5 separate regions of the Homo sapiens genome follow, and all the other regions are linked to region 1. The links come from fine-mapping of genetic effects on gene expression. A gene starts in region 1. Each other region holds a variant in brackets. All regions are shown on one strand. Distances are from middle to middle.

Region 1 (5,000 bases):
TTTTTCCCTTAAACTGGTAATAGATGTCCATGTAGTTAATTCACACAACAAGGAACTATTGAGTGCCTACTATGTACCATGCACTGCTGTAGACACGAGACACTTGGAGAAGCAATAAAAAAATTTCTCCTTCTGGAGCTTGCATTCTAGTAAATGTTAAATATTGTGTATCTTTGTTTATATCTTAAATGTTTCATTATAAAAATTTTTAAATAATTTTAAAAGGAATGAGAAATATGGATGTGAAATCTCAATTTAAATATGGTAATGGGCAGGGCATGGTGGCTCACGCCTGTAATCCCAGCACTTTGGGAGGCTGATGTGGGTTGATCCCCTGAGCTCAGGAGTTTGAGATCAGCCTGGGCACATAGCAAAAACATGTTTCTACAAAAAAAAAAAAAAAAATGCTGGGCATGGTGGCACGTGCCTGTGGTCCCAGCTACTCAAGAGGCTGAGGTGAGAGGATTGCTTGAGCCTGGGAGGTGCAGGTTGCAGTGAGTGGAGATCGCACCACTGCACTCTAGCCTGGGTGACAGAATGAGATCCTGTCTCAAAAAAAAAAAAAAGAAAAAAAGTAAGCAATCAGGAGATGGAAAAGCCCTTTGTCCAAGTAAACTGGGAGATCGCTAACTAGAAAACATAATTTAAAAGTTCAAGGCATAGGCAGGAGAGGAGATGGCAATGTTTTAGACAGAAGAAACTAATCCAGCAGTTTAACTTTAAAATACATTTTAAAACTTTTTTTCCTTTCTCTTGGGTTTCAAGATACAACCTTGAAGCAAACTGCAAAAGCCTTTTCCCTTAGCTGTAAAATAGACCCCATATCCCTCCCTTTCTCACTGTATATACTCCCTTCACATTTATCTTACTGTATGCTAGTATTTAATTATCTGCCTTCTGAGAAGTTCCAAGGGCTAATCTTGAGACAGACAAACCAAGCCTGGAGACACAGCTGCAAAATTCCAAAGATTACTTCAAGGTGGCTAGTCAACAGCGGGGCCATTGTGGAGATGAGACCAGCCCACGCTCCAGGTAGGCTGGGACCCAAGATAGCCACCAGAACAAGACACACAGACGTTGTACTCTGTACAATTCTTGCATGCTTCCCATATCAAATTTTCCTTTTAAGCCGTTCTCTTTCCCCCCAAAATCGAAGTGGTTACTTTAGATGGGAATCTGGCCACTTCCCCATTACTCCGCTCTCGGTTTTTTTGTTTGTTTTAGTTTGAGACAGGGTCTCACCTTGTCACCCGGGTTGGAGTGCAGTTGACAGCTCATTGCAGCTTGGACCTCCGGGGCCACAGCGATTCTCCTGCCTCGGCCTCTCAGTAGGTAGGACTACAGGCACGCACCACCACACCCGGCTAATATTTGTAATTTTTTGTAGAGACAGGGTTTCGCCATGTTGCCCAGGCTGGTCTCGGACTCCTGAGCTCAATCTCTTGTTAACTGGACTCTGCAAGCCGCAGGGAGAAACGTGCTTTCCTTAGAAAACTAGACTAGAGCATATTTACTGATGCTAAAGAGGTTGGTTTTGTATTTCCCTGGGCAAATAATTCTCTCTGAGCCTCCGTTTCTTCTAGAGATGATGTCCATCTTGCAGGATTGAGAACTGGTATAAGCTCCATTATGAAAAGTGACTGACACAAGCTTGGCAGAAAACGGGTATACTCCGTTTCTCTCCTTAATATCCTCCATGCCATTTGATTGCACAGCAGGGTAGGCGAGTGAGAACTTAGTGTTAGACTCTGTAAAGTATTTAAGATGTGCAGCGAGCTCTGCCTGTCTGAAGTTTTCAACGGACCGGAAAAGGATACTTTCAGGTGCTGAATTATTAAGAAACATATGGTGGGCCCCATTTCCATTTCCCCAGGCTTAAAGGACATGGACAAGCAGGTGAGCCCCGCCCCTGTCTCTCTTCCAGGGCGGAGCTTGGGTAGGCCCCGCCCTCTTGCTCGGTGGGGCGGGGCGAGGGCTGGAGGCGGGGTAGGTCCAGCGAGCGAGCGAGCGCCCAGCGCCTCGGGCTGAGTGAGGGAGGAGGTTCGGTGGAGAGGCTGCAAGTGGGCGAGGGCTGGGCGCAGCGACCTCATTGGAGCCGGCCGGTGGACGCCCCGGCGGAACCGCCCAGAGTTCCTGTCCTGCGCTACCTACCCGAACGCGCCTGCGCGCTGCGAACCCCGCCCCGGTGTCACCTGTTGGAGCCCCCCGCCCGCGTAGCCGTGCACATGCGCACTGCCGGCCGCCGGCCAGTGGGGTCACGTGTTGCGCGCGAGCCACCTCCCCTGCTGGCGCTTCCTGTCGCTACCGCTGCGGCCCAGGGCCCGCGGGAGCCCAGGGCGGTGCCGGGTGAGACAAGGCCGGGGTTTGGCTCGGATTCACCGCGAGGTATGCCGCGTCCCCGCCCCTCGGCGTGGGGAGTTCTGGGGACCGCGGGGGTAGATGGAGGCGGCGCGGGCGGGGCAGGGCGGCGCGTCCCGCAGCGCGGGAGTGGGGGTCCCGTGTCGCCTCCCCCTACGGACTCCGTTGCCCACCTTCCGTGAGGCCTGGCTGTGTCATCGGGGCCGCAGCCTTGGAGTGTCTGGCCTCGCTTTCACCTGAGCCGGAGTCACTCCCGAAATCTGACACTCAGAGTCCCCCGGAGCGCCCGCCAGCTCCTCCGCCCGCTCCCCGCCGCCTCCACGCCCGTCAGCTGGTCTCCCCGCCAGCGCTGTGGCGAGATGCGCCGGCTTCCTGCCTTTTCCCCCTACCTTCTGTGCACCTCCCCTTTGGTGCCAGAATGGGGTTTCTGAAACACCGATACGATCCCGCCACTTCTTTCCCAGCGCCCTCAGAATAATGCCCAAACGCTTTTCGGCTTAGAGGTTTTCATATTCTGCCGCTTGCTCACATTTCCACCTCGGCTTGTGCATTCAGGCCTCACCGCTTATGCCCCAGTCATACCAGGCCTCAGGTTCCATTGTACAGGCCAAGCTGCTCCCCACTTCAGAGCCGTCAAGTGTTCCCTCGTCTTGGAATCCTATTTCCCTCTTTCCCCCAACTTCTTTGCGTGACTCAGCTCAGGCGTCACCGCCTCGAAGGAGGAGCCTTTTCTCCCAGGGCTGAAGAAGGGGTCACCTCAGGGCACCCATGGCCCCTGGGGCAACCCCGTGTAGTCCACCTCCACCCTGTAAATGGTCATTGAAGGCTGAGACCGTCTTAGGTTCATTTCTGCGCTCCCAGTGCCCAGCGCAAGGTCTGACACAGGAGGTCCTGTGAATAACTGTGAGATCTTTATGGGAATCAGAATGCTGAGCCAGCTTTCTCCAGAGCTCAGCTGTGAGATGGAACTTTGATGACATGTCCTTGGATGATGAAAATGTTCTGTGTGTGTGCTGTCTGGTCATAGCCCCTCACCACATATGGCTGTTAAGCACTTGGAATGTGTCTGTTGTGGCTGATGGACTGGATTTTTAGCTTTATTTCATTTTAATTCATTGAAATTTAAAATTAAATAGCCAGCTGTGGCTTCCATAAGCACAGCTTTAGAGCCTTTCTGAATTCTACCCAGCCTTCCACCCACCCTGAACCTAGAGTACTTCCCTGAATGTGCTTTTTAAATTTGAGTCCGTTCAGAACATTCCTCAGTAAACCCATTAACAGGTGATCCCCATCCCTCCCATGGCCTGTGCTGCTTCAGTGCTTTAATTAAAGGTAACCCATACTTTGGTGTTCAGCATTGCCTTCTTTGGGAGTTTACTATCCACACCTTACCACGGGTAGCACTGTTGGGGGCGTGGCTTATGGGCTACTCCAGCCTGAATCTCTGTAACTCTTCCATAGGTATCTAGGCTGCCATGATGCCAGGGCCAAGACCTCGGAAGGGCCCTCAGGCCAGAGGCCAAGGGGTGGCCGCTGCCAAGCAGGTATGGAACTTAGCCTTCTAGGCTACTGGGTCGGTTTGGGGATGGGGGTCCCTAGACAACTTAGGCAAACTGGATCACATGTAGTTCCCCCATTAGTTCAGAGACTTGGAGCAGTGCCTCCTGGAGGTGGCAGAGCCCTTAGACACCCTCCTACTAGTCTCTTCCACATACAAGTGGGGAGAGGGTTCAGGAATCACCAAAGTTTAGGATGTTCTGATGGGACCTCAGTGCTCTCAAAGGTTCCTTAGATAGGGTCACAACTTTGCTTGTTAGCCAGGGATGCCAGGGCATGAGGGCTGTAGTCAGTGGGAGGACTTCACTGCCTAGGGACAGATGGCTGTGCCCCAAGTGGAAGAACAGGGGGGTCTCCTCTCCAATTTTCTTCCTTTATTTCTTCTGGGCCTACATCTTGAGACTTCTTAGTCCATTTTTACTGTCTTTAAAAAGGCAGGTAAGAAAGGAGGTGGGGTAAAGGGCATAGACTCAAGTCGCAAAGAGCTTGTTTTAAATTCTGATTGTCTCACAAGACTGTCTCAGTTTCATCTGAACATTGGGATAAAAACAGAATGTAAGCTGGGTGCCGTGGATCACGCCTGTAATCCCAGCACTTTGGGAGGCCGAGGTGGGTGGATCACCTGAGGTCAGGAGTTTGAGACCAGCCTGGCCAACATAGTGAAACCCCATCTCTACTAAAAATACAAAAATTAGCTGGGCGTGGTGGCATGTGCCTGTATTCCCAGCTTCTTGGGAGGCTGAGGCAGGAGAATCGCTTAGACCCGGGAGGCAGAGGTTGCAGTGAGCCAAGATAGTGCCACTGCACTCTAGCCTGGGCGACAGAGCCAGACTCTGTCTCAGAAAAAAAAAAAAAAAAGGATGTACCTCTACCTAGAGTAGTCATATTCATGGAAACAGAAGAATGGTGCTTACCAGAGGCTGGAAGGAGGGGAGGAAGGGGGGTTAATGTTTAATGGGTAGAAAGTTTGTTTCACAACATGAAAACAGTTCTGTGGATGGATGATGGCGATGGTAGCAGGATATTGTGAATGTCCTTATGCCATTGAACTCACCCTTAACAGTGGTTAAGATGGTAAATTTCAT
Region 2 (5,132 bases), 200 kb before region 1:
TGGCTCATGCCTGTAATCCCAGCAATTCTGTTACCAGTGGAAGGTGCCCAGATTCTTGGCTTCTTGAAAAAATTGGACAAAACACACAAATAAAGCAAGGAAAGAATGAAGCAAGAAAAGCAGAGATTTACTGAAAACGAAAGTACACTCCATAGTGTGGGAGCAGGCCAAGCATATGGGTTCAGGAAACTGGTTACCCAATTTTCTGGGATTTAAATACCCTCTAGAGGCTTCCCATTGGTTACTTGAGGTACACCCTATGTAAATGAAGAAGTGGCCTGTGATTAATCTGATTGGTTGCAGAAGGCAACCAATCAGAGGCTGAAGTGACGTTACAAAGTTAAACCAATCTGATTGGTTGCTTTCTGCAACCAATCAGAGATGGAAGTGAAGTTACAAAGTTAAACCCATGCAAACATCTGATTGGTTGCAGAAGGTGACCAATCAGAGGCTGAAGTGAAGTTACAAACTTATACTCCTATGCAAATGAAAACTTGGCCTGAGACCAGCCTGATTGGTTGCAGAAGAGGACAAATCACAGGTACTTTCAGTTTTTCATCTGCCAGGCAGAAAAGTGGGGGATGCAAAGGGAGTAGCCTCTGGTCCTTTTGTTACTTGGGTGTGGTAAGTTGGAGTTTTCCCTTTGACTTAGTTCTAGGAAGTCAGAATGAATCGGACTTATGTTCCCTGCTTTCAGACCCTGTAGTGTGTAGTGCCTCACTTTGGGAGGTCGAGGTGGGTAGATCACTTGAGGTCAGGAGTTTGAGACCAGCCTGGCCAACATGGCAAACTCCATCTCTACAAAAAGGCGGAGGTTGCAGTGAGCCGAGACTACACCACTGCGCTACAGCCTGGGTGACAGGGCAAGACTCCATCTCAAAAAAAAAAAAAAAAAAATGCTGGGCATGGTGGCTGTAATCCCAGCACTTTGGGAGGCCGAGGCGGGTGGATCACCTGAGGTCAGGAGTTCGACACCGGCCTGGCCAAATGACAAAACCCCATCTCTACTAAAAATGCAAAAATTAGCTGGGTGTGGTGGCACACGCCTGTAATCCCAGCTACTCAGGAGGCTGAGGCAAGAGAATCACTTGAACCCGGAGGCGGAGGTTGCAGTGAGCTGAGATGGTGCCACTGCACCCCAGTCTGGGTGACAGGGCAAGACTCCATCTCAAAAAAAAAAAAAAAAGAAAGAAATGAATAAAAACTTATGTAATTATTATTTCAAATGGTTAGTAAATTATTAGGATGTAAATACTGATTAAGTTGTTTGGACTTAACTACTTAATAAAGAGAATTATTACTTTGGTTTTTTTGTAGGAGGAGTGGGCATGGAGAAGTCACCATGAAAAAATTACTGAGACACTAAAGGTGCCTTTGAGCTGAGAAAGTTTGGGAACCTCTGTCTTACACAGTTGGATCCTAGATTGCTCTGTTTTCTCCGCTTTTTTTGGTTGGTTTGCTTCTTTGCTACATCTCATCAGTACTGTTACCAATGCGCCCTCTCTATACTCACAGAGTACTTACAAATGCAGGCACCTCATATATATTAACTTATTTAATCTTTATGACCAACTGTGCAAAATAGCTATTATTATTATTCCCATTTTACAGATGAGGAAATTGAAGCTAAAAGGTTAAATACTTCAAAGTCATACAGTTAGGAAGCAGCAGCACAGGATTCAAAGACTCAGTTTGACTCCAGAATCTGTGCTTTTAACTATCTTATTCTGGCCTCCCAACCCCCACCCATTAATTGTTAATTTTGATCTGCTATAGACATGGAAACTAAATATCCAAGCTTGTTGGAACTACATGTAAAGCAAGAGCTGAAAGTCACTACTGGGAGAAAAGTGCATGAACTCTACAGTATGTGCGGTCTGCACAAGACTGAGCAGCATAAAATGCTCAAAAATAACTCCTTCCGGCCAGGCGCGGTGGCTCACGCCTGTAATCCC[A/G]GCACTTTGGGAGGCCGAGGCGGGCAGATCACCTGAGGTCAGGAGTTCGAGACCAGCCTGGCTAACATGGTGGAACTCTGTTTCTATTAAAAATGCAAAAAATTAGCCAGGCGATTTGGTGTGTGCCTGTAATCCCAGATACTCAGGAGGCTGAAACAGGAGAATTGCTTGAACCCAGGAGGCTGAGGTTGCAGTGAGCTGAGATCATGCCATTGCACTCCAGCCTGGGCGACAAGAGTAAAACTCCGTCTCCAAAACAAAACAAAACAAAACAAAACATAAAAAACCTCCTTCCCTCTGACTTCCCCAGCTGCTGTAGCCAGCAAAGGTGGGGGTGGGAGTGGGTGGATATTTATTGAATTACACAGGATGTCTCAGGCTCTCCATGTTTCTCCGGGGGTCATGTTTCTCCGAGGGTCCATGTTAAACTCGGGTCTTCCAACCAGCAAGTTACTGTTCTATGGAAACAAAAAAGTTTAAAATGCTCCCTTCACTGTAAGAGAGGACAAAAGTGGACAGAAAATGCAATACAGATACATGACAAAAACAGGATTACCTAGAGGTAGGCAGGCCCATATTAATTCACAAGGAGAAATGTCATTTCAGGGGCAATAGGAAATAAGAAGCGGAAGTTTTGCAGACCTACTGGAGAAAGCAAACTTCCTCAGAAACAAGATTAAGACTGTACTTAAAGTGAACCTTGAGCATATACAACCATGGTGACTTAGATGAATATCCTGGACAGAAAAGAATCAGCAGAATTTGGATAGTGGAAGAAGGAAAGTTCAGCTCAGATCAGAGGAACTCGTATTGGTTAAGAGGTTTCCCTAACTTTCTAGGGAGGAGGAACTGAAAGTTTAAAACAGAACCTACTAAGCCACCTTTGGAGATCTTTATACAGATTTCTGCATAAATCAATCAATGGGTAGTAAACTGTATGCTTTCATTTCAGACTTGGGTTCAACCTTTCTCAGTGAAAGATTTTCTTTTTTTTTTTTTTGAGATGTAGTCTCACTCTGTCACCCAGGCTGGAGTGCCATGGCGCGATCTCAGCTCACTGCAACCTCTGCCTCCTGGGTTCAAGCGATTCTCCTGCCTCAGCCTCCCAAGTAGCTGGGATTACAGGTGCCTGCCACCACACCCGTGTAATTTTTCTATTTTTAGTAGAGATGGGGTTTCACCATGTTGTCCAGGCTGGTCTTGAACTCTTGACCTCAGATGATCTGCGCCCCTTGGCCTCCCAAAGTGCTGGGATTACAGGTGTGAGCCACTGCGCCTGGCCTCAGTGAAAGATTTTTCATAAAAAGCTCACAAAAACTTTTTGTGAAGAATCCCCCTATGTGGTGATTTCTAGATAGCAACCTGGATGGCCAGACCCCACCTGATGTGCAGTCAAAATTCTGATTCCCAGAATGGACAAAATGAGAGGAAATCCTTTTTTAGTCTGAGTGTAATATACAAACTTCCTGACAATGCTGAGGATGTTCAGAGTGCTTGCTTATGAAACTGCTTGAGAGCTGGATTCTGGATAGGTGGCATTTATAGCAACATTATGTCCCAGATTTCCGAGGACAGCCCAGATTTCAAATATCCTATCTTATTGTAATTATAAGTAGGCTTAGACTTCTGCTCTTATGTATCCTGATTTGGATAGAATGAGGAAAATATGGGCATAATATAAGTGATCCTTTCGTGGAGTGTATGATGAGGATAAATACCAGAAGGAAGTCATGGTGGGGTCTAGAAGTATTAACAGTGGTCTACTAAGATTATTCCTTGGTAACATGGTGTGAAAAAAAAAAAGCTATATTTGGCGTGAAACAGGCAGAAAGAAACTCCTGCAAATTCAGGGATGGCATGTGTGCCATTTGAAGAGAATAGAAGAGCCCAGGGGTGAGAAGTTTGGGGACAAAAAAAGAGGCTACTCCTAGGAAAGGTCAGCTGTGTCCCCTTGAGAGAGGAGGAAAGGACTAAAAGTCTGAGACAATCCGGCGGGGTCGGGGTGGGGGATTAGAAAAAAGTTACACAAACACTCAGCCAAGAGAGAGGGGAGAGAGAGAAAGGAAGAATATTAAAAGTAAAGCTTAGAAAGAAATTTACAAGATAGACTCAGGAGGGCACACTTAGCAAGAGGAGAGAGACAGTTGGGGGAGGAGAGGATACGAAGAGAGGCTAGGGAGAACAAGAAGAGGAGAGAGAGCGAATGAAGTGGGGGGAGCCGGAGCATGTATGGGCGAGAGAGGTGGTGAGAAGCTTGCAATTTCTCTTGAGATTGTGGATGTCTGGAGGGCCCCAGAGGAATGTTGGGAGAGATCTAAGGCTGGGATCTCTGGAACTAGACCAAAGACTCTACAAACAAGAAAAATTTTGAGCTGCAGCTCTAAATCTGCTAGAACTGGCGATCCCTTCAGGGATCCCTTAGAAGTCCTCCCTCCAAAGCTGTGAGTGATCTTATTCTCTGGGGAACTTTAGAGACACCCAGCAAGACAGTTTGTTGATGTTGTATAACCTTAAGAAAATTTCTCTTTAAAATATTGTTGGCTTGCAAGGTGGAGGTACTTAGCTGACTAAAAGGTATGTTTCTTGGGTTCTTGGGGATGTCAAGGGAAGTAAAGTGTGTGAACCCCTCCCCACAAAATCTGAGACTTTATGCTACCAGGCAATATTTAGTTTTCAAAGGAAAATACATGTGTGGATGCTATAGCCCTTGCCCAGAGATTCTGAGAAACTTATCGTTTTTAAAGCTTAAGGACATTTAGTTGGTTTTCTCTCCCACATAATAGGGTAAGTGGAATTTAGTACAAACCTCTTAAAAAGCAATTTGGCAGTGCATATCAGGAACCTTTTAAATTTTCACACTACTTGATATAGAAATCCCACATCTGAGAATTTTCTCTGAGGAAATAACCTTATAGTGCTTTATGCATTTATGCAAAAAGCATTATTTATAATAGAAGAAAATTAGAAGTAACTTAAATGCCCAACAATAAGGGACTGGTTAAGCAAACTCTGGCACCTTCTCTTAATGCAGTATTTTGCAGATGCTAAAACTGTATTTATAAAACATTCTTAAGATATGGGAAAATGCAGCAAAATATTAAGTAAAAAATTATAGACAAAATATGATCTCAACCATGTTAAAAGGCATTTAAAAAAGACTGGAAGGAAATATGCCAA
Region 3 (5,132 bases), 110 kb after region 1:
TCTTCATAGGACAGTACTGTCCTGGGCATAGCAAGATGTTTAGCAGTCTTGGTATGCACAGGTTGCTAAATGCCAGTAGCAACCTCAGTCATTCTGACAACTAAAAATACCCCACTATATTCCATATACCATCTAAGTACCTTCCCCAGTTCTCTAAGCTACAGGCTTAGAGTAAAAAAGTAAAGTCAGTTCTAAAAATTAAGAAAATTACATATTTGCACACCTGAACTTAAATTATACTGCTGAAATATCTTACCATATGCCATATATCTTTATCACAACACAATCTACTGCACTGATTGAACTTATTCTCCATTTCCCCACACTAGAATGTAAACTCCATGGAATAATGAGCTAAATTATTTTTAATACTGGTATCTTCAATATTGTGTCTGAAACATAGTACTCAGTAAATATTTGCTTATTGCTTCCTTGAAAAGTAAAGTTATTGCATAAATAAATGTATGACTGGGACTAGGTGCAGTGGCTCATGTGTGTAATCCCAGCACTTTGGGAGGCCAAGGCAGGTGGATCACCTGAGGTCAGGAGTTTGAGACCAGCCTGGTGAAATATGGTGAAACCCTATCTCTACTAAAAATACAAAAATTAGCCAGGAGTGGTGGCAGGCGCCTATAATCCCAGCTACTCAGGAGGCTGAGGCAGGAGAACCCAAGAGGTGGAGGTTGCAGTGAGCAGAGATCGCGCCACCGCATTCCAGCCTGGGAGACAAGAGCGAAACCCCGTCTCAAAAAATAAATAAATACATAAATACATAAATGTATGAATGGAGAAACAAACATTAATGTAAACTTTTTGGGGAAGGACTATATGATTCATATCCAAATTCAGAAAATAATCTAGAGCCATTCAACTTTTGCAACAACACATTTTAATCTGTTTATAAGAATGACCTCAAGATTTTTATGCCTAATGGTTACAGCTGACATCATATGGCAGGATCCGTATGACCTGCCTAAGCATAAAGAGACAAAGTAAGGTAATTTATAATATATATTCTATACGATGTTCCAGCTAAGTACTGGTTAAAAGGTTCCATTTGTGTGTTTATATGTAATTTTTTTAAATGTGGCACTTCTGTGTTCCTATTTCAACTTGATTATTCTCTAGTCAGATGACCTTATGGGAATAATTTAAACTCTCTAGGTCTTAGTTTTTCTCACATGTAAAATAGAAATGCTAATACAGTATTTCCTTCATATGGCTTTTATGAAGATTAAATGAAATTATATGTATAAAATGTAGCATATAATAGGTTCTAAATGTATGTTGGTACCTTTCTTATTTCCCTTTCCTTTCCTTTTAAAATTTCCCACTACAGGCTTTCCACATAACAAATCCTATTGCTAAATCTGTGAACATGCTTTATATTCAAAGTACCACTTTGTGCCTATTTATACCCTCTTACAGTGTGAATAACACTTATTCCTTTGCAATTCTTGAAAATTCAAATCATCAAATGCTCACTTATTTCTTTCCAAATTAGAAAATGCAAAAAATGATGTCCCAGGTCTTCAAAAAGCCCTATAATTATGACAAAAATAACTGTGATGTGAGAATAATAAAAACAGGAGAGGAGAGTGCATAGAACTGACCAGTGTCCAGCTGTTCACAAAGACCAGTGAAAGTAACAACTTATAAAAATTGTCAAATGCAGGAGTACTTTATCCCTCCACTTATTAGCACATAGCAAAAATCAGTATCATAAGATCTAAAGCAGTTCAAACAAATCCAGACCCTTGCCTCTGTCTAAACACCTGTTTAAACTTCACTGTTATTAATAGAAAACAATAATAATTATCAGAGTCATTTTAAGTGTCCATTACAGAAAGGGTTAAAAGAGATCTCTAATTCAGACTTTCAATATTATATCCAACTGAGGCTGTACCAGCCCAGCCAACATGGTGAAACCCCATCTCTACTAAAAATATACAAATCTGCTGAGCGTGGTGGCACATGCCTGTAATCCCAGCTACTTGAGAGGCTGAGGCAAGGAAAATTGCTTAAACCTGGGAAGGGAAGCAGAGGTTGCAGTGAGCTGAGGTTGTGCCACTGCACTCCAGCCTGAGCGACAAGAGCAAAACTGTCTCAAAAAAGAAAAAGAAAAAAAAAAGAGCCGGGCATGGTGGCTCATGCCTGTAATCCCAGCACTTTGGGAGGCTGATGTGGACAGATCACAAGGTCAGGAGTTCAAGACCAGCCTGACCAACATGGTGAAACCCCGTCTCTACTAAAAATACAAAAATTAGCTAGGCGTGGTGGTGGCACACGCCTGTTATCTCAGCTACTTGGGAGGCTGAGGCAGGAGAATCACTTGAACCCAGGAGGTGGAGACTGCAGTGAGCTGAGATCGCGCCATTGCACTCCAGCCTGGAAGACAGAGCGAGACTCCATCTGAAAGAAAGAAAAGAAAGAAAGAGAGAGAGAGAGAGAGAGAAAGAAAGAAAGACAGAAAGAAAGAAAGGAAAGAAGGAAGGAAGGAAGGAAGGAA[G/A]GAAGGAAAGAAAGAAAGAAAGAAAAGAAAAGAAAAGAAAAGAAAAGAAAAGAAAAGAAAAGAAAAGAAAAGAAAAGAAAAGAAAAGAAAAAAGCAAAATAGCTCAAACTCAATGAATTAAAAAAAATTTTTTTTGAGTCAGAGTCTCTCTCTGTTACCCAGACTAGAGTGCAGTGATGCAATCTCGGCTCACTGCGACCTCCCAAGTAACTGAGACTACAGGTACGCGCCGCAATACCCAGCTAATTTTAGTATTTTTAATAAAGATGGAGTTTTGCCACGTTGCCCAAGCTAGTCTTGAACTCCTGACCTCAGGTGATTCACCTGCCTCGGCCTCCCAAAGTGCTGGGATTACAGGCATGAGCCACTGCATCCAGCCTAAAATTACTTTTTTTTTTTTTTTTTTGAGATGGTTTTGCTCTTGTTGCCCAGGCTGGAGTGCAATGGTGCGATCTCGGCTCACCGCAACCGCCGCCTCCCAGGTTCAAGCGATTCTCCTGCCTCAGCCCCCTGAGTAGCCGGGACTACAGGCATGTGCCACCATGCCCGGCTAATTTTGTATTTTTAGTAGAGTCAGGGTTTCTCCATAGGTCGGTCAGGCTGGTCTTGAACTCCCGACCTCTGGTGATCCGCCCGCCTCAGCCTCCCATAGTGCTGGGATTACAGGCATGACCCACCGTGCCTGGCTCTAAAATTACTTTTTAAAAATATGTTTCCTTCAGACATATCTGTTTTTATGCCCAAGAATAATTTAATTGTAAACAAAGCATAAGCTTGCATTCTGTTCTATTCATATGTCATCATAAGCATTTTCTACACTGCCTTGTAATAATTTTTAATGGCTGAAGCAAATATATGTATTGTACTTAACTTACCATTAACCTTTTTTTTTTTTTTTTGAGACATGGTCTCGTTTATCACCCAGGCTGAAGTGTACTGGCACAATCATGGCTCACTGCAGCCTCGACCTCCTGGGTTCAAGTGATCCTCCCAACTCAGCCTCCCAAGTAGCTGGGACTACAGACATGCCCTACCATATCCAGCTATTTTTTAATTTTTAGCAGAGATATTATGTTGCCCAGGCTGGTCTCGAACTCCTAAGCTCAAGGAATCCTTCCACCTCAGCCTCCCAAGTAGCTAGGACTACAGGCATGTACCACCACATCCCGCCATTTTTTAATTTTTAGTAGAGATGAGGTCTCACTGCGTTACCTGGGCTGGTCTCGAACTCCTGAGCTCAAGTGATCCTCTCACCTTGGCCTCCCAAAGGGCTGGGATTACAGGAATGAGCCACCACACCTGGCCCATTATCCAATTTTGGACACAAATTACTTTAAATGTATTTGCTATTTAGTAACACTAAAATACACATCTTTTTGTTTACTGCACTTGTTTTAAGAATTATTTACTCAAAAAAGGAATCATTAGCTCAAAAAATTGGAACATACGTCCCCTTTTGTTTGGCAGAGATGAGGTCTTGCCATGTTGCCCACACTGCTCTTGAACTCCTGGGCTCAAGCGATCTGCCTGCCTCGGCCTCCCAGAGTGCTAGGATTTACAGGTGTGAGCCACCACGCCCAGCCACACATATGGCTTTTTTTTTTTTTTTTTAGTAATGTAAAATATGTGAGCTTTATTACATGTTAAAGATAATATGACCCAAATTTATCAAAATTACAATAAAATATTTTTAAATATATATAAAGTTGCAAATAACTGATGTTTTTTTCAATAAAGGTAACTGATATACTATTTAAAGACAGGATAAAACAAAGATACGTTTAATGACTTCCATATCATTTTAAAGTCACCTTATTGAACAATACATCATGAAATCTATAGTTGTACATCTAGGAAATTTACCAATGGCGCTCTCTTCTACCAGTGTGTATATTTTAATTTGTCTCATATGGGTGGGTGTCTTTTCCATTTTGATGACTGGCTAGAACAGCAATCTGTATCATTAACGTCCAAGTTGGCTTCCTATGATTATCAGTTAAGGGAATATGAATCCAGCCACTTGGTTCCACCAATTCAAGTTGCCGAATTTCTTGAAGGTTGTGAAAATTATTTCCTACTTTGGCTGAAATCTTGCTTGGAGTATAGCTTTCATCAGATTTGTAGTCTGCATAAATATATAATGTCTTAACTGTTGTTTTTCTTCTGAATTGGATGTTCACTAAATGAGGCTGGGAGCCATCTGATTGCCAATAAGTTTCTAGATTGTCATCTCGTAACTGATCCACTCCAAATCCTGGTTTGCAAGATGAGAGTGACCAAACAGCTTGTGACCCAATTTCCCGTACTGTTCCAGTCTTTTCCAACTGCTCAGGGTCAGTACCAGGAGGTGCCTTGTTTGGTGTGGTCATTTTTTAAGTATTCTGGCTGCTTGCCAAAACTCAGGTTCTCAGGATCTCCAGCAGCTCTGTGCCACTCCCACTCGGCTTCCTAGGACAGCCTGGGTTCCCCAGCGACCCACGTGTGGCTTTTTAAATGTGTAAATATGCCAGTGTCAATTTCACTATCTATCATACTATCAACATTTTCTATTTTTTGTTATATAGGCATAAAATTTTAAAAATTTTAATTTCTACCTCTTAGTATCTAGTAAATTAAAATATTT
Region 4 (5,132 bases), 230 kb before region 1:
CAGCCTCCTCATGTAACTGGCTGGTTTCTGCTGTACTCGCGGTTTCCTCTCTCGGCTTTGGATCACCCCCTCCCTCTGTCTCTGTACAGGGGGAGCTTCTTTCTTCTTCCTTGCCTGTTGGGAGAGAGAAAGAATAAAAACTAAAACTAGTCATACAAAACCTACAGTACTTTACTTTTTTTTTTTTGAGACGGCATCTCACTCTGTCGCTCAGGCTGGAGTGCAGTGGCACAATCTCAGCTCACTGCAACCTCTGCCTCCCGGGTTCAAGTGATTCTGTGCCTCCGCCTTCTGAGTACCTGGGATTACAGGCGGCCACCACCACGCACAGCTAAATTCTTTTGGTATTTTTAGTAGAGACGGGGTTTCATCATATTGGCTAGGCTGGTCTCAAACTCCTGGCCTCAAGTGATCCTTCTGCCTCGGCCTCCCAAACTGCTGGGATTACAGACGTGAGCCACCGCAACCGGCCAACATGTAGTACTTTACATGGCATTAAGCGGGGGAGAGGGTAGAGTAGTATGGTATAGAGTAAGGAGGGATTGTAACTTTAATTTGAATGATCAGGAAGCCTCACTGAGAAAATGGTATTTGGGCAAAGACCTAAAGAATGTCAGAGAGGAAAGTAGAAGAGCAGTCTCGGTAGAGGAAGCAGCAAGTACAAGGGCCTGGAGGCAGGAGCAGGCACGATGTGTTTGCTGAACAGCAAAGAGTCTAGTGTGGCTGGAGCAGAGTGAGCAAGGGGAAGAGTAACAGAAGATGACATCAGAGAGGTAAGGGATGGGTACACAGCTACTGTAGCATCTTACAAGCCATTGTGAAGAGTGTGGCTTTGATTCTGAATGGGATGGGAGGCCACTTAAGGGTTTTAATCAGGGAATGGACATTTCTAATTTATGTTTTACCAGAATCATTCTGACTGCAGTACTGAAATGAGAAGAGTAGTCAGGAGGCTATTGCAGTAATCCTCATAAGGGGACATGTGGGCAGTGGAGGTGGTGAGAAGTAGATTCTGAATATATTTTGAAAGCAGAGGCTGGGTGTGGTGGCTCATGCCTGTAATCCCAACAAGAATCTCTTGATGCTAGGAGTTCAAGACCAGCCTAGGCAATATAGTGAGACCCTGTTTCTACAAAAAAAAAAAAAAAAAGTAGCCTGGCACGGTAGTGTGCACCTGCAGTCCTAGCTACTTGGGAGGCTGAGGCAGGAGAGTCACTTGAGCCTAGGAATTTGAGGCTGCAGTGAGCATGATTACTTCACTGCACTCCATCCTGGGAGACAGAGTGAGACCCTGTCACTAAAAATAAAAATAAAGGTAGGGCGCAGTGGCTCACGCTTGTAATCCCAGCACTTTGGGAGACCGAGGTGGGCGGATCACCTGAGGTCAGGAGTTTGAGACCACCCTGGCCAACATGGCGAAACCCTATCTCTACTAAACATACAAAAAGATTCTGGTCATGGTGGCACATGCCTGTAATCCCAGCTACTCGAGAGGCTGAGGCAGGAGAATCGCTTGAACCTGGGTGGCGGAGGTTGCAGTGAGCCAAGATCATGCCACTGCACTCCAGCCTGGGCAACAGAGTGAGACCCTGTCTCAAAAATAAATAAATAAATAAATAAATAAAAATAAAGAAAGAAAGTAGAGGCAAAAGTATTTCCTGACAGGTGGAATATAGGGAATGAGAGAAAGACAAGAGTCACAGATGACTTTAAGGTTTTTGGCCAGAGCAATTGGAAAGATGGAGTTGCCATTAATTGGGATGAGGATGCTTGTGGGGGGAACTGGTTCAGGATGGAAAATCAAGAGCTCAGTTTTGGACATGTTAAGTTTGAGTTGCCTATTAGCAGTAGTAAACATTTACAAATTGGCTTTCCAGGAGAAAAAGGTGCGTGTGTGTGTGTGTGTGTGTGTGTGTGTGTGTATAATAAGTTTATTATAAGGTTTACTGATATAAATGATGCATAGCACACAATTCACAAATAATAAAATATATAGTACTTCTTATTGTAAATTCCATATGGCCACTTTATTCCCACAGAACGTTTTAATTGATGTTGGCCAGACTCTTATATCTATAGCCAACTAATGGTTGCAATTGCTGAACATGTATACTTCCAAGATTAATGTTGGTTGATATTTTTATTTCCATTAATAGTAAGATGAAAGTGAAACAGTAGAGATATATGCCAGAACAAGGATAAAGCCAATAACACGAAGGCTTTCTTTGTGGCATCTGAGAGTAGTTTCCAATACCAGAAGAATATTTACACTAATTTTTGTGTTATTCACAGACTAATGGCTATAGACATAATATACTCTCAATTTAATCTGTATTATTAACATTTTTTCCATCACTTTCTTAAGTCTAGGCAATAAACAAAACAATAAATCAACCCCTGAGAGCCACATTTGCTAATGTGTGGTGTAATACTCCCACCCTGGTTGATTTTGAGCTTCCAACATGATTTTACTGAATGTGGAGTTAGGAAGAGATGTGAGAATAGCATACCATTATGCAGTATTTCCACAATACAGATAGAATAGACATCAATAAACTTGAGAGCACAGAAAATCATAAAATAGAGTAAAACAATTAGAAAGTGATAAGTTTTTAATATTACCTTTCTTTTTAACATAATTTCTTTAATTTTAAAAATGTAATTTAATTTTTAGGAATGGCTGTGGTTAGCAAGAGGCTGGCAAAAGTCCTGGAAACATAACAATTGACTCTAGGAGCTGGTTCCAGACACCATTCCTATCTCTGATACGGTTGGATATATGAGTCAGGAATTGGAAGAGATCTAAGGCAAGATATAAATTTGGGAGTGGGCCGGGCACGGTGGCTCACACCTGTAATCCCAGCACTTTGGGAGGCTGAGGCAGGTGGATCATCTGAGGTCAGGAGTTTGAGACCAGCCTGGCCAACATGGCGAAACACTGTCTCTACTAAAAAATACAAAAATTAGCAGGGCGTGGTGGCAGGCACCTGTAATCCCAGCTACTCAAGAGGCTGAGGCAGAAGAATCACTTGAGCCTGAGAGGC[G/A]GAGGTTGCAGTGAGCTGAGATCGTGCTATTGCACTCCAGCCTGGGTGACAGAGTGAGACTCTGTCTCAAAAATAAATAAATAAATAAATAAATTTGGGAGTGGACAGCACACAGAATATTTAAAACCATGGTACTGGATGATGATGGTGAGTTGGAATAGAGAGAAAAGAGAACCAAGGACAGCCCTTGGGACTCCAGCATTCAGCTGGAGATGAAGACATGAGGGAGCCAGAAAAAGACACTGAAAAAGAGTAGCCACAGGAAGGACCAAAAACCTAAAAGAGTGCGATGTCATGGAAGCTAAGTGACAGATTTGTTCCAGAATGAAGAGAGGGATTAACTGGTAAAATGCTGTTGATAAATCTAGGAAGATTAGGACTGAGACCTGAACATGGGATTTAGCAATTTATCCTTCAACCAATAAAGGGAATTAAACAGACAAAATCACATTTCCTTGCCTCTTTGCCATTCCTCATCTGCTCCCCCTGCCTGTATTGTTTTCCCGTCCTTGTGCTTACAGCAAGTTCCTATAGGGCTTCCAGGTTTTATTAATCGGGGCCTCAATAGGAAACAGATGAGATACTCAGATTAGGGGAATTTGAGGAAGGCTCATTTACACAGGGACTAATTTCCATTGTGTGGGTGGGGTGTAGGAGAAGACAGGGATCGTTCAGGAACCTATCTGAACTGTTAACATCTCTTGACCTGAATGGATGGGAAGAGGGAGGAGAGATTATGGAAGCTGGAAAAAGAGTCCTATACACCTATACACCAAGCCATCTTGAAAGGGGCAGTTCCCTTGTTTGTTTGTTTGTTTTTTTGAGACAGAGTCTTCGTCACCCAGGCTGGAGTGCAGTGGCGCGAGCTCAGCTCACTGCAACTCCGCCTCCTGGGTTCAAGTGATTTTTGTGCCTCAGCCTCCCTGAGGCTGTTAATTTCAAAGGAGAATCACAGCCAGTCCAAGGTAAACTTACAGGGAAGGAGCCAGGGAGTTAATTCATCTCCTCTTTCTCACCAGTCTCCTTCGGGGATATTGGCCGGTACCTGAGTGGAAGCCAGGGAGCAAAGGAGCCCATCAATGTCAGCTGTACAGGTTCAGTGTACCAAGAAGACAATGGGGGTGGACAGTGGATCCAAAGAGTCAGACAGAAGGTGTGCAGCACACAAACCCAACTCAGAAAACAGGTTTTCTCTGAGGCTTTTCTCAACACTTTTATTTAGGTGGGTAGTTGCCCCCATTCTATGCTTTCCTTTTCTTGTTTTTTTATTTTTTAGAGACGGCGTTTCACTCTGTCACCCAGGCTGTAGTGCAGTAGTGTGATCATAGCTCACTGCTGCCATCAACTCCTGGGCTCAAGCAATCTTCCTGCTACAGCTTCCCGAGTAGCTGGAACTACAGGAATGGGCTACCACACCCAGCTAATTTTTTTTCTATATTTTCAGAGGTTGGGGGTGGGGGTCTCACTATGTTGTCCAGGCTGGTCTTGAACTCCTGGCCTATCTCGGCCTCCTAAATAACTGAGATTAGATTACAGGCATCAGCCATGGAGCCCAATTTGTGCTTTCATGTAATGTAGCACTTATCATGCTGTATTGCAATGATCCACAATACTGGCTGCACCTTAGAATCACCTGGGGAGCTTTTAAAAAACACTAATGTCCAGGCTCCACCCTAGACCAACTGAATCAGGAAGTCTGGGGATAGGGTCCCAGCACTATGTATTTTAAAAATACCCCAGCTGATTTTAAGGTGCAGTCAGGATTGACAATCACTGTTGTGATGTCATTGCCTATCTACTTGTATGTTACCTTGAGGAATTTGTAGCTCTTTGAGGGCAGGACCGTGTTTGATTCAAACCTGTCACTAACCTGCAGCATGGGACCTTGTACAGGGCAGATGCTCAGGACATGAAAGTTCACATTAAAGAGTATTACGACTTTAATTTTTGTGTAATTTTGTTATGATTGTGGTATGTATCTCATCTAGGGCATTGTTTTTCAAACTGAGAGTTGCAACCCATTAGTAAGTTACAGAATCAACTTACTAGCTCAGACTAGCATGGAAAAAAAATTGAATAGAAAAAGTC
Region 5 (5,132 bases), 210 kb after region 1:
GGCCATGCTATTAGAAAAACAGCTCCTGTGGCCGGGCGTGGTGGCTCACGCCTGTAATCCCAGCACTTTGGGAGGCCGAGGCGGGTGGACCACGAGGTCAGGAGATCGAGACCATCCTGGCTAACACAGTGAAACCCCGTCTCTACTAAAAATACAAAAAATTAGCTGGGCGAGGTGGTGGGCGCCTGTAGTCCCAGCTACTCGGGAGGCTGAGGCAGGAGAATGGCATGAACCCCGGGGGGCGGAGCCTGCAGTGAGCCGAAATCGCGCCACTGCACTCCAGCCTGGGCGACAGCGAGACTCCGTCTCAAAAAAAAAAAAAAAAAAAGAAAAAAAAGAAAAACAGCTCCTGGTGTGCAACTGTGTCCTATTAAGAGATACAATGCTTCATCACTGGGCACCATGTGTCCAGACTTTCCATAATGATCTGCATTCACTAGGACTCGCCAGGTCATAAAGCCAGGTGAGCATAGCAGCAATCCATTATAAGATAGGAATGGCACATCAAGGATCAAAATGAAACAGAACCAAAAGGCACAAGAAGACTGCTATAAGCAGGCAGCCAAGACTTCCCTGGCACTCACCATACTAGCACCATTTCCTCAGCTCACATCTATAGCTATTTGGGGTATCCTATAAGACCAACTTAAGAAGGAGAAAAAAGCCAAAGTTTTGCTTATAAGTAGGTCAGCTCAGTATGTGAATGCAAGCTGAAAAAAACAACGGAGTTCATTATAGCCACACTTAGGGGTGACCTTGACAATGAAAAGGGAAAATCTTCTTAACAGACAGAGCTTTGAGTCGTGCACCTGGTTATGAATTTTATGCAGAAAGAAAAGTGGCCTGGGGTGAGAATATATAGACTCACGGGCAATGGCAAGTAGACTGGCCAACTGGTTAGAGGCCTTTAAGGAGAAGGACAAAGGCAAGGGGTATGGGTGGAGGGAAATGAATGAATATATGGGAGTGGGTGGAAAGTATGAAAATCTTTGTTTCATGTGTTAATGCCCACCAGAAAGTATCCAATACAGAAGAGCCAATGAACAGCCAAGGAGACAAAATGACTCAACTAGCTGACATCGGTCACCCAGAAGTGGCAAGATGGGGACATAAATGGAGAGGTCACTGTGGCAGAAATAGAGATGGAAGCAGAGAAGGAGACATGGACTCCCATTTACCAAGGCCAACTCTGAACATCCAACCTATGAGCAACAAAGACCAACACCAAGCCCCCATATAGCATTATGCCTCAGGCAGACCAACAGACTATTAAGTGGTAAGCTGACTACACTGGGCCTCTTCCATCTTGGATGGGCCAGTGATTGATCTTCACAGGATTAGACATTTATTCCAGGTATGGGTTTGCCTTTCCTGTCCATAGAGACCTAGCCAGTACCACTAAATATAGACTTATACAGCACTTAATCAACAGACATGGAATCCAGCCAAGGGAATCACTTCACAGTGAAAGATTTGTGGCAGTAGGCCCATAACCATAAGCTCCAGTAGTTATATCCATAACAGCTCCATACAAAAGGACCAGTCTTAGAGAGTATTGGAATGGCCTGCTGCAGGCACAGCTAATGTACTAGCTCAGAGACAAAAATGGTGTGCTATCCTCTTGTATGCAGTACATGCACTGATTTAGAGCTAGGTTCCCAGTAAGAAGAATACATGGGTCTGAGAACCAAGAAGTGGAAAGGGAAATAGCCCCTACTCGCCATCATTCCCAATGATCTACTTTGTGCTTCCCATCTCTGCAATGTGGGGCTCTACGGAGTTAGAAGTCCTGGCACCCAAAGCGGGCACACTTTTGCCAAGAGACACATGAAAGGTCACAGTGAACTACAATTTACAGCTGCAGCCTGAATACTGAGTATTCCTTGTGTCCAAGGACTAGAAAGCAGTAAGAGGAATGCCCATCTTGGCAAGATTAATTAACCCTCATCCTCAGGAGGAAGTAGGGCTGCCGTTACACAAAGGGAACAAGAAAGAATATGTGTGGGACTCAGATGATTCCCTAGGATACCACTTAATACTCCCTGCCCAGTAGTGACTATGAATGGGCAAATGCAACCACTCCAGTCTCAGACCCCTCAGAAATGAGGGTTTGGGTCAAACCACTAGGTAAACAACCAACACCAGCAGAAATGATAGCTGA[G/A]GGCAAGGGCAATTTAGACTACATAGTGGAGATGGCTCTAGAACTTTGTGGCTCTGAGACCAGCTACAGTGATGAGCCTGAGGCCTGTCTCACTAATCTCTTTCTACATTTCCTCCCTTGGAGGAGCTGCTCTCAGAAACTGTGAAGATATGGATCTGTGCATCATGAGGAATGGACTGTAGCAATCACTTGGATCTTCCTTCAAAAAAGAATTGCCATTCAGGTCCAAGGAGTTTGGTTAGCTAACAGCCTCCAGCTGCAGCATGTTCAGAATTCATCTCAGCTTCCCAGTCATGACCATGCTCTCCTTGGGCAGCTCTAGCCAGTGACTAAACATGGTGGGTGTACTAAAATCTGGCCATTTCTGCCCATGCAGGCCTCCTCTAACAGGCAATATGTGCTCTGAAGTTCCCTGTTAGGTTGACTGAGATTTTTTCAGATCTGCATCACAGACTGAGGCTCTCCCTAGGCAATTCTGCTTTCTCCCCATTTCCTTTCATAGGCATTCCATCCCATAAAACCTCTTGTGCTACTACATCCATTTCAACGTCTGCTTCCCAGCGGACCTGAACCAATACACTATGTACTTAGCTCTTTACATGTATCTGTTTATTTAACCCACTGATGTATTATTGTTAGTCCCATTTTACAGGTGAGAAAACTGAAGCACAAAGAAGTTATTAACTTGCCCAAGATCACAAAGTGAAAGGAGAATTAAATTTGAACCCAGACAGTTTGACTCTAGAGCCTGTAATTTAATCACTATGCTGGGAGAGACAGGATACTGTCTTGTCATCTTTAGATATTAAGAGTGATTATTTATTCTGTGTAATTTTAAAGAGTAAAAGAGCAAAAGGATATATACTAGAAAAAAAGCTAGATTTTTGGCTGAATATAAAAAGAAATAATACTGCTAATATTCTAATAACGTGCAGAATGAGCACCTTCAGGAAGTAATCAGGGCCTATCATCTGAGAGTTCAAAGTCTCGGATACGGTGAGGGTGAGACTTTAAAAAACAGGTAAAAGTTGACCTACATCAGTAAAGGGTATTAATTACTAAGGCCTACGTGGAAAAAAGGGGTTCCACAACCAAATAAGTTTGGGTAATATAGCCAGGCACACTGGCTCATGCCTGTAATCCCAGTACTTTAGGAGGCTGAGGCAGGTGGATCATCTGAGGTCAGGAGTTCGAGATCAGCCTGGCCAACATGGTGAAATCCCATCTCTACTAAAAATACAAAAATTAGCCAGACATGGTGGTGCATGCCTGTAATCCCAGCTAATCAGGAGGCTGAGGCAGGAGAATTATTTGAACCTGGAAGGCGGAGGTTGCAGTTAACCAAGATGGTGCCACTGCACTCCAGCCTGGGTAACAAGAGCAAAACTCCATCTCAAAAAAAAAATTGGGGTAATACATAGCTGAACAAAGTTAAACAAGTTTCTTCCACTCCTCAGTCTTTAGAATACTAACGTGCATTTGCAAACTTCTACCTAAGGGATATATAGTAAGCTGAAAACCCAAACTTATTTGACTAAAGAACATCTCCTTGCTCCTAGGGAACATACTTTAGAAATCCTGGATGGGCTCAGAGAGGTGGCTCATGTCTCTAATCCCAGCACTTTGGGAGGCCGAGGCGGGTGGATCACTTGAGGTCAGGAGTTCCAGACCAGCCTGACCAACATGGTGAAACCTTGTCTCTACTAAAAATACAAAAAATTAGCCAGGTGTAGTGGTGGGTGCCTGTAGTCCCAGCTACTCGGGAGGCTGAGGCAGGAGAATTGCTTGAACCCGGGAGGCAGAGGTTGCAGTGAGCCGAGACCACACCACTGCACTCCAGCCTGGATGACAGAGCGAGACCCCATCTCAAAAAAAAAAAAAGAAAAAACACACATACACACACACATAGACACAGGACAAGATTCACAGGATGAAAAAAGAGTGTGGACTTTCTAGTCAGAGATATATGAGCTTGATATATAAGTTTGAATCATCAATGTGGGCTTAAGCTTAGGAAAATCAATAAAACTCTCCAAGCCTCAGTTCCCTCAGCTGTAAAATGCATAATAATATAATGACCTTATAATATCCTTAGTAAGAGTTACAAATAACATATGTGAAACACTTACCAGAAAGATGGCACACTACAGGGAAAGCTTTTATATTCCACAAAAAGTAATACAAGGTAAAAGAATCAAGGAAAACTCCATAAACCTGGAATCTTGGAAGAACAGGATGCAAAAACAGGAGGGAGGAATGATCAGCTTGGAACCAAATCATGAAGGCTGTATGCCAGGTTAAAGAATCTCAACCTTGCTTTTTAAACACTGAGCAGAAATTTCCATGAGTGACCTCACAATAACTTCAAAAATAATTTACCTCGGCTACTACTACTAAAAAAAAAAAAAAAAAGACAATTATCACCAGAATCACAAAAAGGCCTACATGATGTACTGTGAAGTTCAAGTTTCAAACTGGCAGTGTTTTATTTTAATTACCTTTTAGGGACTGTTTCTCCTGCTCAACTGAAAATGAAAAATGGAGATTAAAGTTTGTATAAATCCTGACAGGGTGTTTTTACAAAATTTTGACATTGCTTGTTCTATCTTTTCTTCTTTTTTTTTTTTTTTAAGACAGTATGTTCCCCTGTTGCCCAGGCTGGCGTGCAGTGGCGTGATCTCGGCTCACTGCACCTCCCCTCCGGGTTCCCAGGTTCAAGCGATTCTCCTGCCTCAGCCTCCTGAGTAACTGAGATTACAGGGGCCCAACGCCACGCCCAGCCAATTTTTGTATTTTTAGTAGAGACAGGGTTTCACAATGTTGGCCAGGCTGATCTTGAATTCCTGACCTCAAGCGATCCATCCACCTCGGCCTCCCAAAGCGTTGGGATTACAGGCATGAGCCACCGTGCCTGGCCCTATATATCTCATCTATCTAGCTATCTATCTAGCTATCATCTATCATCTATCTA

Direction of the effects. Positions count from the first base shown, and alleles are read on the strand shown. Sizes are in standard deviations (SD) of each study's normalised expression. Not every link is listed here.
In carriers of allele G in region 3, the expression in prefrontal cortex of the gene that starts at base 2,249 in region 1 tends to be higher than with A alone (large effect, 1.0 SD a copy in BrainSeq).

The links.
Region 2: its variant is fine-mapped to the expression of CC2D1B in subcutaneous fat (GTEx, PIP 0.93).
Region 3: its variant is fine-mapped to the expression of CC2D1B in prefrontal cortex (BrainSeq, PIP 0.92).
Region 4: its variant is fine-mapped to the expression of CC2D1B in spleen (GTEx, PIP above 0.99).
Region 5: its variant is fine-mapped to the expression of CC2D1B in blood mononuclear cells (TOPMed, PIP above 0.99).

The regions. Positions count from the first base shown.
Region 1 is chr1:52,363,454-52,368,453 of GRCh38, reverse strand. It overlaps CC2D1B (coiled-coil and C2 domain containing 1B), which reads left to right and starts at 2,249. Exons shown (of 25, transcript NM_001330585.2): 1 at 2,249-2,385; 2 at 3,820-3,902. The coding sequence starts at 3,834. RefSeq lists an enhancer at 8-57 and silencers at 1,870-2,499, 2,540-2,649.
Region 2 is chr1:52,567,216-52,572,347 of GRCh38, reverse strand. No RefSeq gene overlaps it. Among named protein-coding and RNA genes, the nearest start is that of TUT4, 17 kb to the right of the region's middle. RefSeq lists an enhancer at 551-1,051. The variant A/G (reference allele first, on the strand shown) is at 1,956.
Region 3 is chr1:52,253,367-52,258,498 of GRCh38, reverse strand. All of the region lies in intron 4 of ZFYVE9 (zinc finger FYVE-type containing 9), which reads right to left. It also overlaps the pseudogene ANAPC10P1. Among named protein-coding and RNA genes, the nearest start is that of CC2D1B, 110 kb to the left of the region's middle. The variant G/A (reference allele first, on the strand shown) is at 2,510.
Region 4 is chr1:52,593,731-52,598,862 of GRCh38, reverse strand. No RefSeq gene overlaps it. Among named protein-coding and RNA genes, the nearest start is that of GPX7, 6.1 kb to the left of the region's middle. The variant G/A (reference allele first, on the strand shown) is at 3,045.
Region 5 is chr1:52,150,431-52,155,562 of GRCh38, reverse strand. The region is part of intron 1 of ZFYVE9 (zinc finger FYVE-type containing 9); the gene reads right to left. All of the region lies in intron 4 of LOC107984956 (collagen alpha-2(I) chain-like), which reads right to left. Among named protein-coding and RNA genes, the nearest start is that of ZFYVE9, 11 kb to the right of the region's middle. The variant G/A (reference allele first, on the strand shown) is at 2,162.